Homo sapiens: one gene and its partners. The protein of the gene in region 2 interacts with the protein of the main gene of each other region in a pairwise test. Each region holds a gene or a part of one and is shown on either strand. Other genes may lie near its edges. The genes, in order: ZNF655, SLC12A4, ATF7IP and MTNR1B.

Region 1 (3,567 bases), on a different chromosome or scaffold from region 2:
GTACCCTGTGCTTAGGAAAAGAAAACTCAGATGAGAAAACTAAACAATGTAGTATCTACAAGGACAAGAAAAGTTTATTTACTCTGAAAAACAGGCACAAAATCTCAACAGCAGAAGTTAAGGGCATAAACAGGAGCAGTGAGGTAAAACAGCGGACATGTTCAGCAGAGTAAGGAAATAATAGGGAAACAGCTGAAAGAATTTTAGATAAGCAACTTGATTGGGGTCTAGTACGACATGTGCACGGATACTAAACAAATGGAAAGGGTCAACCTAACTGAAGGGAAAAGGAAGGAACTCTCCATGCTAGGACACACACAGAGCTCTTCATTCTGAGTGCCAAAGCAGCTACAACTTGGCTCAACAATTGAACTTTACTTCCCTACTAATTCTATCTGATTCTGCCTTACTCACCTGAGCAGTCATCTCTTAAGACTTCTCTAGTCTTAGTTTCCAGATCAAAGACCTGTAGATCCTGTTCCAGCTGGGAGATCCCATCAGGCTTGGAAATTGGAAATCCTGCTCATAGAGAAGGAAATGGGATGTGGCAATGTATCCCCAGGTCCTACATCTGCCACTTTTTCTTTTAACTAATGATTAAGAGAGACAGAAGGTCGATTCTGAGAAGACATTAATTAGGAAGGTCTGGAGAGTGAAGAGGGCAAAGATCTACAAGGAGCTCAGATTTGTGCTCTAGAGGGATGTGTGTTAAGGGGCAAGTTGATGACTTGGGAGCAGAAGGATTCATTTAAATATTATTCAGACAACAGAATGTGTGCATGGGTTTGTCTTCACAGAAGTTATCATTATCACTCTCCATCTGTTACCTAAAGATTAATCTTCGGATTAGATCTGGTCTACAAGTATCAAAATGGAGGTCATCAAAATGTAATTCTGCTGGACTGGAGAAAGGTGAAACTCAAGCACCTGCTGCATGGTTAGCTAACCTGTAGCAAGAGAATCAGTGAAAACTGAATAAATATTCTAAGGACCAATCTCAAGAAACAATTTGTTTCAGTACACATAAGAAAACAAAGAGTAATATGACACATTCTTACCCATTAGGAGTGTAGCATTTATTCAACAAACATTTATGAAGTGCCTCCTCTATGCAAAGTATGCAGGGGATAAGAGGCCAAGAAGGTCCCTTCCCTCAAGGACCTCACACTCTACACAGAGACAGCTCTAAACAACTAACTACAATAAAATATAGAGAGGGAAGTGCAATCAGTGCATCTTCACATAAAACAGTCTTTCTATGGCTTGCATAATGCAATGCTTGGATATAAATCTCTTTTAAAGCTAAAGCAACAGGCAGTCTGCTTCCAAGGAGACAGAATTTTAATACTATTAGTATCAAAGGGCAGTTTTTAAATGTGTCCAGCCCAGAAAGCTTCTAATAGCACACATACAAGGTCTGGCTCAAGCCCCTCATCTCCAAAAACCTTTCTCTCCATTTACTGAATGTGTACAAAATTTATTAGTTGTTCCCTCTTATCCTGACATGTCACATATAACGGTGTTTACATAGATTTTTTTTTAAGTGGTTTCAGGTATTGTCATTCATACTTGATTTATAAACTCTTTGATAGAAGGGACCAGGTATCTTGTATCTTGCAATTCTTTTGATTAATTTACTTAACGGCTACTTATTGAGTGCCAACTCTGTGCGCCCAAGTATCAATGTATTAACAGCTACCCAATTTTATAAAAAGGGCATTGGGGCTGGAAAATATGAAGAACTGACAGCTGCCCCAAAGATTCCATGTGAGAGCCTATGAGCAAGGAGATCAGAATAGATAGAAGAAAGGTATTTACTGTGTTTCTGAAATCCTGTGGGACATTTAGAGTCAACTCTCCTTGTGGACATATATTTAATTAAGGTCCACCCTGTCAAATGAAATCGTTTCAGAAGTTTAAAAAGTAAAGTTAGTGTAACATGAAGCAGCAATCAATATTGTTCTCAGAATTCCAATAACATAATTTGCAACTTTTAACTCTGAGATATTTAAAGTGTCTGTCGATATTTGGTAACTGAAATAAATTCTGGCTGCTTACTCCATATCTACACTTAAAACACATATGCACAACAAAAAAGGTGGTCTTCATGTGGGATGAGGGGTTTGATTTTAGATGTGTGTTTAATGTAATGTACGAAGGTATAAGAGAAAATGCCCAGCAGATGAGTACGCAAAGGCATACAGAGTGATAAAATGGACTTCAGAGACTAAGAAGGGAAAGGGTGGGAGAAGGGACAAGGGATAAAAAACTATATATTAGGTACAATGTACACTATTCCAGTGACAGGTGCACTAAAATCTCAGAATTCACCACTATGTATTAGAATTCATCCATGTAACAAAAAACCACTTGTACGCCCCCAAAACTACTGAAATAATTTTTTTTAAAAGAGAAAATGCCTAGCAGGTAAAGATACAATATCACAGTTTAGAAGAGAGAACAGGGTATCATCAGTACCATCAAAATATTATTAAGTTTTACTAAGTACTTGGTAGGTGCAAAGTACCATGCCAAGAGCTCTCTAGGTTTTCACTCATTTAATACCATAAATTTAAAACGTAGAAACTATTATTATAGCCATTTTACAGATGGGAATACTAAGATTCAGAGTGGTTAAGTAGCTTGCCCAAGGTTACAATAACTGGTAATGCTTAGTTTTCAAACCTGCACAGTCTTATTTCAGAACCTAGCCTTTAAACAATCTGCTAGTAAAAAAAAAATTATGATTTTGCCTCCTAACAAGCCCTGAAAAAAAATAAATAATGACTGTGAACAAAATCCATCCCTTCCTCCAAATTACACACAGAAAGAACGTGTAAGTTTTCTTGGCACTAGCCTAAATGCCTATTTCCTAAATTTAACTCAAAACTTTGCTTTCAAAATATGCACTTGCTTTATTTACATTTTTCCTGTTTAAAATTAATGTATTAAAACTTTTTGATTTTATTTAAATCTTGAGTTTTCTAATATGATTTATAAAATATTGACAGTGAAGTAAAAGGTAAATACAAACAACAGAGAAAAAGTGATTAGAATAACATACGGTGAACCAGGATCCTAAATAATTGGAGTCGCAGAAGTGTTAATTAAAAGGGATCTATGGCTGGGCACAGAAGCTCACACCTGTAATCCCAGCACTTTGGGAGGCCATGACGGACAGATCACTTCAGCCCAAGAGTCTGAGACCAGCCTGGGCAACATAGTGAGATCCCACCTCTACAAAAAATACAAAAATTAGCCAGGCATGGTGGCACACGCCTGTAGTCCCAGCTACTTGGGAGGCAGAGGCAGAATGATCGCTTGAGCTCAGAAGGCCGAGGCTGCAGAGAGCCAAGATCACACCACTGTACTCCAGCCTGGGTGAGAGTGAGATCCTGTCAGTCAGTCAGTCAGTCAATCAACCAACAAACGAATCAAGAGGATCTATGGACCAGGCATGGTGGCTCACACGTGTAATCCCAGCACTTTGAGAGGTCAAGGCAGGAGGATCTCATGAGCTCAGGAATTTGAGACCTGCTTGGGGAACATAGTGAGACTCCATCTCTA
Region 2 (3,567 bases):
ACCGCCCTCTGTGCCGCAGGTTCTTTCTGATGTGCTACCTGTTCGTGAACCTCGCCTGTGCGGTGCAGACACTCCTGAGGACCCCCAACTGGCGGCCCCGGTTCAAGTACTATCACTGGTGAGCCATGCCTCTGACACGGGAGACCCTGGGGAGGCCAGGAGCCTCATTCTGGGTGAGGCTTGGGTTTCCTGGGTAGGGAGCTCTTGAAACACTGTGGGGAGGGAGATTATAGGGCTGCGGGGGACTGGACCTAGGTCTTACACCCAGTGACCTGACCACCCACCTGGGACCTCCCACCCGGGACCTGACAGGGCTACCAGGGCATGGGCCAGGCTGTGGCCAGGGGTCCTCCTGGTCCTGCCCTGACTCTGCCCTCCCCTCTCGTCCAGGGCGCTGTCCTTCCTGGGCATGAGTCTCTGCCTGGCCCTTATGTTTGTCTCCTCCTGGTACTATGCCCTGGTGGCCATGCTCATCGCCGGCATGATCTACAAATACATCGAGTACCAAGGGTGAGTGAGCACTGCCACCTGGCCTCTGCCAGCTGAGGGGGCCCGGCCGAGCAGGCAGGGTGGTCTGGCATTGGGGTGGGCAGGGAGCTGGGCCACCGTGGGTGCCAGGACTGGGGACTGTAACTCAGGACCCCTGGGTGGTCTTGAGGGGCAGAACCCCTCCACCTCGCATCCACATAGACAGAACCCCCTGGGCGGCACCAGGGGCTCACCAGCTGTGGTGGAATCTGCAGGGCTGAGAAGGAGTGGGGTGACGGGATCCGAGGCCTGTCCCTGAGCGCTGCCCGCTACGCGCTGTTGCGGCTGGAGGAGGGGCCTCCTCACACCAAGAACTGGCGGTGAGTTCCCGCCAGACCCTGGCCAGGGCGCAGAGGTTCTTAGGGGTCGCTGTCGGGGTCAGAGGGTCGAGAGGTGCCGGCTCCCCATCCTGGGGCTGCCCGGGGCACCCTCCTGGGCCATGCTACCCAAACCTGCAGGGACCACGACCCGAGAAGGGAAGAAGAGGAGGGGCTCCCTAGAACGGCCGGCCCTGGTCTCAGGCTCCCCCCACCCGGCCACTGCAGGCCGCAGCTGCTGGTGCTGCTGAAGCTGGACGAGGACCTCCACGTGAAGTACCCGCGGCTCCTCACCTTCGCCTCCCAGCTCAAGGCTGGCAAGGGCCTGACCATTGTTGGTTCTGTCATCCAGGGGAGCTTCTTGGAGAGCTATGGCGAGGCTCAGGCCGCCGAGCAGGTACTTGCTTTGGGGAGGGAGAGCTGAGCCAGACTACAGGGGTCTGGACTGCAGCTGGCACGGAGGGGAGGGCCCAGTCTTGGCCAGGGTGGCCAGCCAGGCAGCCAGCACTGCTGCCACCTGAGAGCTGGCACAAGGGGGAGCCAGCAGTCCCATCTTGAAAACTTGGCCTCTGGGTAGGCAGCTTGTTGCCCCCAGGCCCTCCTCCACCCAAAAGTCGTTTTGTTCCCGAGGGGCCTTGGGAGGGAGCCCAGAGGCAGGAAGCTGATGGCCTCCCATTGGCCCTGGGTGTGTTCCCCACAGACCATCAAGAACATGATGGAAATTGAGAAGGTGAAGGGCTTCTGCCAGGTGGTGGTGGCCAGCAAGGTGCGGGAGGGGCTGGCCCACCTCATCCAGTCCTGTGGCCTGGGAGGCATGCGGCATAACTCCGTGGTGCTGGGCTGGCCCTACGGCTGGCGACAGAGCGAGGACCCCCGTGCCTGGAAGACCTTCATTGGTGTGTGAAGGCCTGGGGCCTGGTGGGCAGGGGTGAAGTGAGGTGGCAGTGGGCGGAGGGCCACAGACTGGTGGTCAGCCGTGCTCCTCCTCCCCAGACACCGTGCGCTGCACTACGGCTGCCCACCTGGCCCTGCTCGTGCCCAAGAACATCGCCTTCTACCCCAGCAACCACGAGCGCTACCTGGAGGGCCACATAGACGTGTGGTGGATCGTGCACGATGGTGGCATGCTCATGCTTCTGCCCTTCCTGCTGCGCCAGCATAAGGTAGACCAGGGGGTGGGTGCAGATGAGAGGGGCTAGGCCCTTGGAGGAGCAGCTGTGACCAAACCGCCCACCTGGTCCCTTGCCTCAGGTCTGGAGGAAGTGCCGGATGCGCATCTTCACAGTGGCCCAGATGGATGACAACAGCATCCAGATGAAGAAGGACCTGGCTGTCTTTCTGTACCATCTGCGCCTTGAGGCCGAGGTGGAGGTGGTGGAGATGGTGAGCCCTCTGCCCTGCCCTGGCCCCGTGGATACCATGTCCCGTGCAGCTGGGTCCTCACGGCCAACCCTGTCCCCAGCATAACAGTGACATCTCTGCATACACCTACGAGCGGACGCTGATGATGGAGCAGCGGTCGCAGATGCTGCGGCAGATGAGACTGACCAAGACTGAGCGGGAGCGAGAAGTCAGTGCCCTTTGTGGTTCACGCCAGGGCGGGTGGCAGGGTCAGGCCTTTGGAGACCGCATCGGTGGGTGCGGAGGAATCAGAATGACTCACCGCAGCCCTACCCAAGCTAGTGCTCATTTCCCGGAGGCAAGGTGGTCACATTGGGCCAGACAGGCCCCATCCCCCTTTTCCTATGGGACCAAGGCTATCTCCTGCAATTGTCCTCAGGCCCAGCTGGTCAAGGATCGGCACTCGGCCCTGCGGCTGGAGAGCCTGTACTCGGACGAGGAAGATGAGTCTGCAGTGGGGGCTGACAAGATCCAGATGACGTGGACCAGGGACAAGTACATGACTGAGACCTGGGACCCCAGCCATGCCCCTGACAATTTCCGGGAGCTGGTGCACATTAAGCCGTGAGTGCAGCAAAAACAGCCCCAGCGGCACTGGAATCTAGGGGTGGAGGTGGGGTGGGGCAGACAAGTAGTGTTAGATGGGCCAGGGGTGGGGACCCTCCTTGCAGGATGGCTCATGGCGACCTGTGACTGGCTACACTACGTGTAGGGACCAATCCAATGTGCGGCGCATGCACACTGCTGTGAAGCTCAATGAAGTCATTGTCACGCGCTCCCACGACGCCCGCCTGGTTCTCCTAAACATGCCTGGCCCACCCAGGAACAGTGAGGGCGACGAGAACTGTATCCCTTTGTGGAGAGGCAGGCAGTTGGGAGGTGGATAGCATGGGAGGTCAAGCCAGCGGCTTCTCTCCTGGGCACCCCTGGGTGGGCATGGCCCAGGTGGCCCGGGTTGCCCGTTGATTCTGTTGTTGCCTCCTTGACTTGAGGCCCTGCAGACATGGAGTTCCTCGAGGTGCTGACCGAGGGCCTTGAGCGGGTGCTGTTGGTGCGCGGTGGTGGCCGTGAAGTCATCACCATCTACTCCTGAGCCCAGTGTCATCTTGTGGCCTGGAGTCGAGGTCTTGGCCAGGACATAACAAGCTGTGGTCTGGGGTAACAGCCTCTTCCCAGCACCCACCTGCCAGCCCTGCTTGCCTGGCCCTGTCCTGGACCCAGCTTTGCTAGGTCTCCTTGGAAACCAGGCCTGGGCCTCAAAATGGAGATGGATCCCAGGTCTTGTGGGACCCTGGGATGTTTGGGGACTTTACTATCTAGC
Region 3 (3,567 bases), on a different chromosome or scaffold from region 2:
TCAGAGGCCAGTTCACCAGTGGCCAGATCATCAGAGGCCAGTTCACTAGAGGATAGATCACCAGAGGCCAGATCATCAGAGGCTGGATCAGTGGAAGCTGGTGCTCCAGAAGCCAGATCAACAGAAGTTATTTCACTAGAGGCTATATCATCAGCGGCACAATCACCAGAAATGGGTTCAACAGGGACCGGTTCACCTGGGATGGGATCACTAGAGGTGGGATCACCAGAGGAGAGATCATCAGCAGTGGCATCACCAGAGGTGGCATCACCAGGGGACACATCACCAGAAGGGGCATCACCAGAGGTTGCATCACCAGAGGCAGCATCACTAGAGGAGGGCTCGCTAGAGGTGGGATCACCAGAGGTGGAATCACCAGAGGCCAGTACTCCGGAGGCTGGATCTCCGGCATCCAGATCACCAGGGGCTGGATCACCAGAAACTGGTTCAGCAGGCAGTTTAGAGACTGGTTCTGGAGTTATATTATGGGGAGACAAAGGTTCACAATTTAAATCATCATCCTGCTTGTTTTTTACATTAACACTTAGGATACAGGGTGTTTCCTTCCATTCTGCTTTACTTCCTTCAGGATCAAAACAAATCTCTTCAATGCCATTCACCTCTTCCTTGTCTTTAATGTAATCCATGTTTTCCAAAGGTGAGGTTGGGTCCAAATCTCCATTTTCATGGTTGCCATTTAACAGCTTGACATCAGTTTTCAACAGTTCTTCTTTGACCTTGTACACTGCTTCAAGTTGCTGACGATCACTCACTCTCATCGTTTTTCGAGCCTTAAAGACTTTTTTCTGAGGTTCTTCTAAACTGTCCATTCTGAATCTTTAAGAAAAAAGAGAAAGAGAGTTTAATAACTGAAACAGAAGCCACCTAATTGTAGACTTAATACAAATTGATCTTAGAAGAGATGCAAGCAGCACATTTCATGTAATGTTTAAGACATAGAAAACCTACTGCTTGTTGTATACTAATTATCATATTTACTGCATCTGTGTAATACAAAATCAAAAATGGCCATAGTCTACTAGAAAATCAACTAGAAAGTATTAGGGGGAAAAGGGACAAGTTTTTTTTTCCAATATGGAATTCACAGAGTATGGAGATGTTTAAGCAAAAAAAAGGTAGATAAAGTAAAAAAAAAAAAAAAAAAAAAAAAGTACCTGAAGAAAATGAGAAAGAAAAATAAAAGTGTAAGAACAACAGTAGGGAAATAACAGGTATAGAGATAAAGGAAAAAGGAGGAAGAATTAAGAAACATGTAAGGAAAGATTACATTTGCAACCAAGCATACTTAGATTGGCAGAACTATAAACATATTAACAAAAGATTACCATCAAGAAAGAAAATTCACAACAATGGGAGAAAATATTTGCAAATCATATGCCTGATAAGACTTTTATCTCGAATCTAGAATTTCATATCTAGAATACAGAATATATATTTATATAGAATACAGACTTTTATATCTAGAATATCTAAGAACTGCTATAATTCAATAATAAATCACCCAATTTAAAAATGGTCAAAGGACTTGAACAGACATTTCCAGAAAGAGACCCCTAAGCCAAAAGTCCATAAGCAATAAACATCATGAGACATCAGGGAAACGCAAGTCAAAACCACAATGAAATAACACTGCACACACGACAGGACGGCTACAATCAACGAGAATAATGAGTGTTGGCAAGGATGTGAAAAAACTGGAACTTTCATACAATGATAGTGGGATTGCAAATAGGTGCAGCTGCTTTGGAAAACAGGCAGTTCCACAATATGTGAAGTACAGAGTTGTCATATGACCCAGTGATTCCATTCCATTCATTTCCCAAGAGAAATGAAAACATATGTCCACACAAAAACTTGTACACAAATGCTCTATAGAGGCACTACTCATAATGGCCCAAAACTGGAAACAACCTAAATGTTCCATAACTGATGAATGGATAAATAAAATGTGCCATACCCCTACAACAGAATATCATTCAACCACAAAGGGGAATGAAGTACTGAACATGCTACTACATGCATAAACCTTAAAAATATGCTGAGTGAGAGAAGCCAGTCACAAAAGGCCACATACTGAATGATTCAATTTATATGAAATGTCCAGAGTAGGCAAATCTAGAGACAGAAAGTAAATCAGTGACTACCTAGGGTTGGAAGATTCTGGAGAAAATGAGGAGTAGCTGCTAAAGGGTACAGGATTTCTTTACAGGGTTATGAAAATGTTCTAACATTGATTATGGTGATGATTATACAGCTCTGTGAATATACTAAAAATAACTGAATTGTACTTTAAGTGGGTGAATAGTAGATATGTGGTTTTATCTCAGTAATGCCACTACAAAAAAATTTCAAAATAAATACAAAGGTTGTGTGTGTGTGTGTGTGTGTGTGTGTGTGTGTGTGTGTGTGTGTATTCTCTTTTTTTGGTAAGTTGTGCTACAGTTTTATCAATTCTATTCACTTATTAAAGTATGAACCTTTACTTGGCTGATATTTCTTGGTTTTATATCTGCTTTCTTGTTTTAATTATTTACTCTAATATTTATTATCTCTTTTCACTTACTTTTTCTTGGAAAGAGCTTAACATGTCATCCTTTTCCTTGAGATTCAAGCTTAAGTGTTATTTTCAATCTTTCTTCTTTTGTAATGTGTGCATATAAAGCTATAAATTTCCCTCTAAGAGCTGCTTTAGTTGCATCTCACATTTTAATGTGTCATTTACATTATTCTGTTAAAATATTTTCTAATTTCCATCATGATTTCTTCTTTCATCTATGACTTATTTAGAAGTAGGTTTCTTAAAAAGGTAATGAATTCTGACCAAGTGAAGCTCGCTTAGAAAAATACAAGGCTGATTTCACATTCAAAAATCAAGCAGTGTTGACCATGAACAAGCCATGATGCATTCTGACTTTATTTCATGCCCAGCAGAGTGTACAATTACGAGTTTTGCCTAAACTGAATGTCTGGTACCAGGATGTTACTGACTGAATTGTGCAGCATCCCACACCCCACATCCCCAGAAAGATATTAGTCTTAAGCCCCAGTACCTCAGAATGTGACCTTATTCGGATAGGGCCTTTACAGTGGTAATCAAGGTAATATAAGGGTACTAAAGTGAGCCCTAATCCAATACAATTGGTGTCCTTATAAAAAGGGGAAAATCTGGACACAGACAGACATGCACACTGGGAGAATGCCATGTGACAATTGAAGTTATGGTACCACAAGCCAAGCAACTACCAGAAGCTAGGAGAGAGGCCTGGAACAGATCCTTCCCTCAGCACCCTCAGAGGGAGAATGGCAATGACAACACCGTGATTTCAAATGTGTTGCCTCCAGAACTCTGAGACGATAAACTTCTGTTAAGCAAAAAAGAAAACCACAAAACAAATCAAGCTATTTAATTCACCACATAAACAGAACAGAGGGACAAAATCAACAAAGGATTACCTCAACAAATACAGAATATTCATTTGACAAAATTCAAGACTGATGCATAATTACAACTTGCCAGAAACTAAGAATACAAGGAAACTTACTCAA
Region 4 (4,047 bases), on a different chromosome or scaffold from region 2:
ACTACAGATAGGATATCCCTGAAAAAAAAAAGACAATTAATCTAACCACTCACCCTGCCATCAGGAGCGGCACTGTTAGGAATGATACAGATCTGCTCCATAGAGGAACTGGGTTTGTGATAGGCAAGTAAAGGATACTGGTGTCTCCTGGGAAACATGCTGTGACCTCAATATGGGCTATGTATCTTGGTTATTGGAAATATATGTATTCTCATTGTTACAGACTTAATTTTTTAATACCAATGATTTAAGGAGCCAGACTTAAGTACAGAAAGGTCTGAAGAAGCGTTTCTTAAATTAAATCCAAACTCTTCAGTAAGACAAGGCCTGATTAAGAGTAGAATGTGTGCTAACTATTCAAAGAGCTGTAGGTTTTAAGCGCCTTTTGAAATCTCACTCTGCTGAGATCATTTAGTTCAAGTCAGTACTACAATTGTTTGTGACTGTCACCAATAAAGCCAGAGGTCACATAAGAACTGGTTAAATTGCAAGACTGCAGCAGTGGCAGGAATTGATGTCATTTAGATATAGTGTTATTATTATTTTTTTTTGTTCGGGTGCTGGGCTGTAGCGGACACATCAGGAGGTAGGAAAGATAGAACAGAGGATATGCCAGCAATTTAACATGCTCATGACCCTCCCCAGTGATGCTCTTAAACTGGTTAGGTTTCTGCAGACCCTGCCAGGATCACAGAAAAGGCCAGCCCTCTGTAGGATGCAGGAGGGGAGGGGTGCTTTTCTCCTTCCAGCAAAAGGAAGCAACTCCTACTTCCCTCAACCACCTTTCTCATGGTGGGCAATCCAAATTACTGAGCAGGGAGCCATGGCCTGACAGACCTGCTCTAAATACTCAATAAGTCAGGGACAGAAGGGGCCAATGTCAGAACCAGGAGGACCCATTTCTCCCCCATAGAGCCAGGAGTTGTCTCCCTTTTGCTTCCCTGTGCTGGAAATGAATGTTTATGATGGCTGCAAGGGACAATGTGTCAAAAATATTAAATGCAGTTTTCTAATCATAACCTGTTTTTCCCTAATATATAAGCTTTTCTTCAAAGGACACAATATTTTGAACAATGTATTCCAGAAAACAGCCACCACTACTGAAGTGAGTTAGAAAGTTTACTTCTTCTTAATAATGTTATGTTTCCCATATGATGGCTGGATACTCACAGTTGGAGGAGTTTCTTGTTTGTTTTTTTAGCTAAAAATCCTAGAGTTGGCCGGGCGCAGTGGCTCATGCCTGTAATTCCAGCACTTTGGGAGGCCGAGGCGGGTGGATCACTTGAGGTCAGGAGTTCGAGACCAGCCTGGCCAACATGGTGAAATACTGTGTCTACCAAAAATATAAAAAATTACCTGGGTGTAGTGGCGAGCGCCTGTAATCCCAGCTACTCGGGAGGCTGAGGCAAGAGAATCCCTTGAACCTGGGAGGCAGAGGTTGCAGTGAGCCTAGACCATGCCACTGCACTCCAGCCTGGGTGACAGAGTGAGAGACTCCATCTCAAAAAAAAAAAATTTCTAGAGTCACAGGCCACACCAAATACATATTACTATTTGCTAAAAATGGTCTGACTCCTTAGAAAAGCATTTTTAAGCTATATGGTTGTTTTACTGCTGCTATCTTTCCATTTTAATTCACTCTAATATTTGAATTTGCTCCCAAGGCCCAACTTGAAGAAACTGCAAAATTAACAAACAGGTGACTGAGCTCCTTCCTAAGCTGAAGTGGTCATCATGCCCCATGACCTGTGAGGGCTAGAGTTCAGATACTGCCCCCCACTCTGGTTTTGTTTCTTTGAAGACCTGACTAGGGGAATATTGAAATGAGAGTGGATTGAAATAGGAAAAATATTTTCAGGATTACAACACGATTTAGCCAAATCATTGCTTTAATTTTCACAGTTAATCCCAGGAATTCCCAGTCTTCGGAAAAGACCACAATATTTCAAAGCAATTTAGTTCAGTCCAAGCAGAATCTGCAATTTCTGCATTTACTCTCCGTCAACTGGAATTGGGTCTTCAGATGACCTGGAGATAAGTTTTTGACACAAAACCTACTGAAATGCTTCCATTGATTAACTCATTTTTTCAGCAAGGATTTTCTAAGCGACTACTACATAAAGCTACAGTGCTTGGCAAGGAAGGAAGTGGGATGTCAAGTACAGGTGGTGAGATTTCTGTGGCCTGATGTGGGCACCTCTGGAAAGACACGCATTGGAGCGCGACGGGGTAGCGATGGCATCCAGCAGCGTGGGTTCCCACAGCGCCGGCGCCCGGCCAAAAAGCGCGCCAGTAAAACTTTCCGCAATTCCCTCTGTGCCAAGCGCGTCCTGGGCAGCCGCACTTCGGAGGGGCAAAACTCACCCTAACTTTTGAGTGCAGAGTCAAACTTAAGGAATAGGTTAGAGTGAAGGGAAAGGGGAGCCCGGGCTGAGGAGGGAAAAGGCAGCGCATATCCCGGGGTCAGGGACAAGATCAGAAGACAAGGAAGGGCCCGATGCCAGCACCCAGCATCAGGAATGGTGCTCACCTGCGTTCCGGAGCTTGCGGTTCCTGAGCACGGAGAGGATCACCAGGAGGTTGCCCACGACGTCCACGGCGGTGGTGACGATGAGCACCGCGGACAGCGCTGGAGCCACCCAGGGAGGTCGAGGGGTCCTGGAGGGCCGCGCGCTGCCAGCCCCCGACCAGCCCGGGCGCACTGCCCACCCGCCCGCCTCGCAGCAGTTGGCGAAGGAGCCGTTCTCTGACATCGCAGACTCTCCCGCGCTGTGCTTTGGCCACCGCGCGGCCCCGGACAGCCGCAGGGCGCGCGCAGTACTGAGCCGGGCGCTCTCTTCCCTGCCCAGCTCGCGTGTGCAAGGGAGGAGGCCAGTGGGGAGGGGTCTGGAGGAGATAACTAATTAAGCGTGGGCAGGGGATGGAGAAAAATATAGGAATGGGAGGAGGACTTGGGGTGCAGCCGTTGTAGAAGGGAGTGCGTCCCTCAGCGGTGCGCTCAGGAACAGCTGGGACCGCACAGCTGTCTCTGCCACCCCGAGCCCAGCAGGTGCCTGGCCCACCTCAGGCTGCGGAGCGCGTCTAGCTTCTGTCCCTGAGTATATAGCCACACCCGAGACCCCGATTTCCTCCACAGCGTCCCCAAGAGAAGCTGTGTCTAGGTAGGGACGTCCAACCCAGGTTGATAGACTGGAGAAGGTGCTGATGGTAGGGACCTCCCATCAGTTGTCAAGAAAGGCAAGGTTTGACGTCCCATAGGGCTGTGCAGCCCGAAAGAGAATGCAACTCCTAAGATGTGGGGACAGAGCCCAGAACAAAGTAGGGTAGACTGTTATATTCTAGGGAGCTGCAGAAAAATACGAACCTAGCCATTTTCCAAGCACTCGCTGGGTATTGTGGGGGGCATTGATGATGTCTCTACTGGGTCCTCTTTATAAAGCCAATACTTTAACATATTTACCAACATATATTTACACATAATACTTAAATAGATGTATGGCCAATATTGGGGGTTATGATGTGGTTTTTGGAGGGGTTAGGACAAGAAGAAGATTGAGGCATGATTACAATAAAGAAGGAACTCAGGTGCCCTTTATTAAAAATGTTTGAGTCGTGATCTGGTGATAATAATAATAGATAACTTCTAATGGGGGCTAATCTTATGACCCCAAAGCACTTTTCACACCCATTAGAATCACTAAAATCAAAATGACTGATTATCCTATATTTGTGGAGGAAGTTAAGCAACCAGAACCCTCATACACTGCTTTTATGAGAATGCAAAATGGTATAGCCACTTTGAAGAGCTGTCTGTTAGCTCCTAATAAAGTTAAATATACACCTATTCTATGACCAGAAGTTCCAAATGAAAAGGAAAGTATATTTCCACCAAAAGACCTGTACAAGAATGTCCAGAGCAGCCTTGTTTATAGGAGCTCAAATCTGGTAACACCTGCAATTTCCACCAACAGAAGAATGGATAAGCAAATTATGGTATGACCTTGCAATGGAATACTACTCAGCAATAAAGATGATTGACCTACACAA

What was found.
Region 1: the proteins of SLC12A4 (region 2) and ZNF655 interact in binary tests that used the Homo sapiens proteins (3 or more experiments, as listed by UniProt).
Region 3: the proteins of SLC12A4 (region 2) and ATF7IP interact in a two-hybrid assay, tested with the Homo sapiens proteins (one large-scale study listed by IntAct).
Region 4: the proteins of SLC12A4 (region 2) and MTNR1B interact in a two-hybrid assay, tested with the Homo sapiens proteins (one large-scale study listed by BioGRID and IntAct).

Annotation. Positions count from the first base shown.
Region 1 is NC_000007.14:99,568,640-99,572,206, reverse strand, and holds part of ZNF655 (zinc finger protein 655), read right to left. Parts: intron 520-3,567; coding exon of another isoform or gene 415-519; intron 1-414. UniProt on the Homo sapiens protein: Probable transcription factor.
Region 2 is NC_000016.10:67,944,612-67,948,178, reverse strand, and holds part of SLC12A4 (solute carrier family 12 member 4), read left to right. Parts: intron 1-19; coding exon 20-118; intron 119-390; coding exon 391-510; intron 511-743; coding exon 744-848; intron 849-1,073; coding exon 1,074-1,242; intron 1,243-1,545; coding exon 1,546-1,741; intron 1,742-1,838; coding exon 1,839-2,008; intron 2,009-2,096; coding exon 2,097-2,228; intron 2,229-2,307; coding exon 2,308-2,415; intron 2,416-2,625; coding exon 2,626-2,810; intron 2,811-2,958; coding exon 2,959-3,092; intron 3,093-3,247; coding exon 3,248-3,339; 3' UTR 3,340-3,567. UniProt on the Homo sapiens protein: Mediates electroneutral potassium-chloride cotransport when activated by cell swelling. May contribute to cell volume homeostasis in single cells. May be involved in the regulation of basolateral Cl(-) exit in NaCl absorbing epithelia.
Region 3 is NC_000012.12:14,421,179-14,424,745, reverse strand, and holds part of ATF7IP (activating transcription factor 7-interacting protein 1), read right to left. Parts: intron 838-3,567; coding exon of another isoform or gene 831-837; coding exon 1-830. UniProt on the Homo sapiens protein: Recruiter that couples transcriptional factors to general transcription apparatus and thereby modulates transcription regulation and chromatin formation. Can both act as an activator or a repressor depending on the context.
Region 4 is NC_000011.10:92,968,432-92,972,478, reverse strand, and holds the start of MTNR1B (melatonin receptor type 1B), read right to left. Parts: upstream 2,829-4,047; 5' UTR 2,754-2,828; coding exon 2,531-2,753; intron 1-2,530.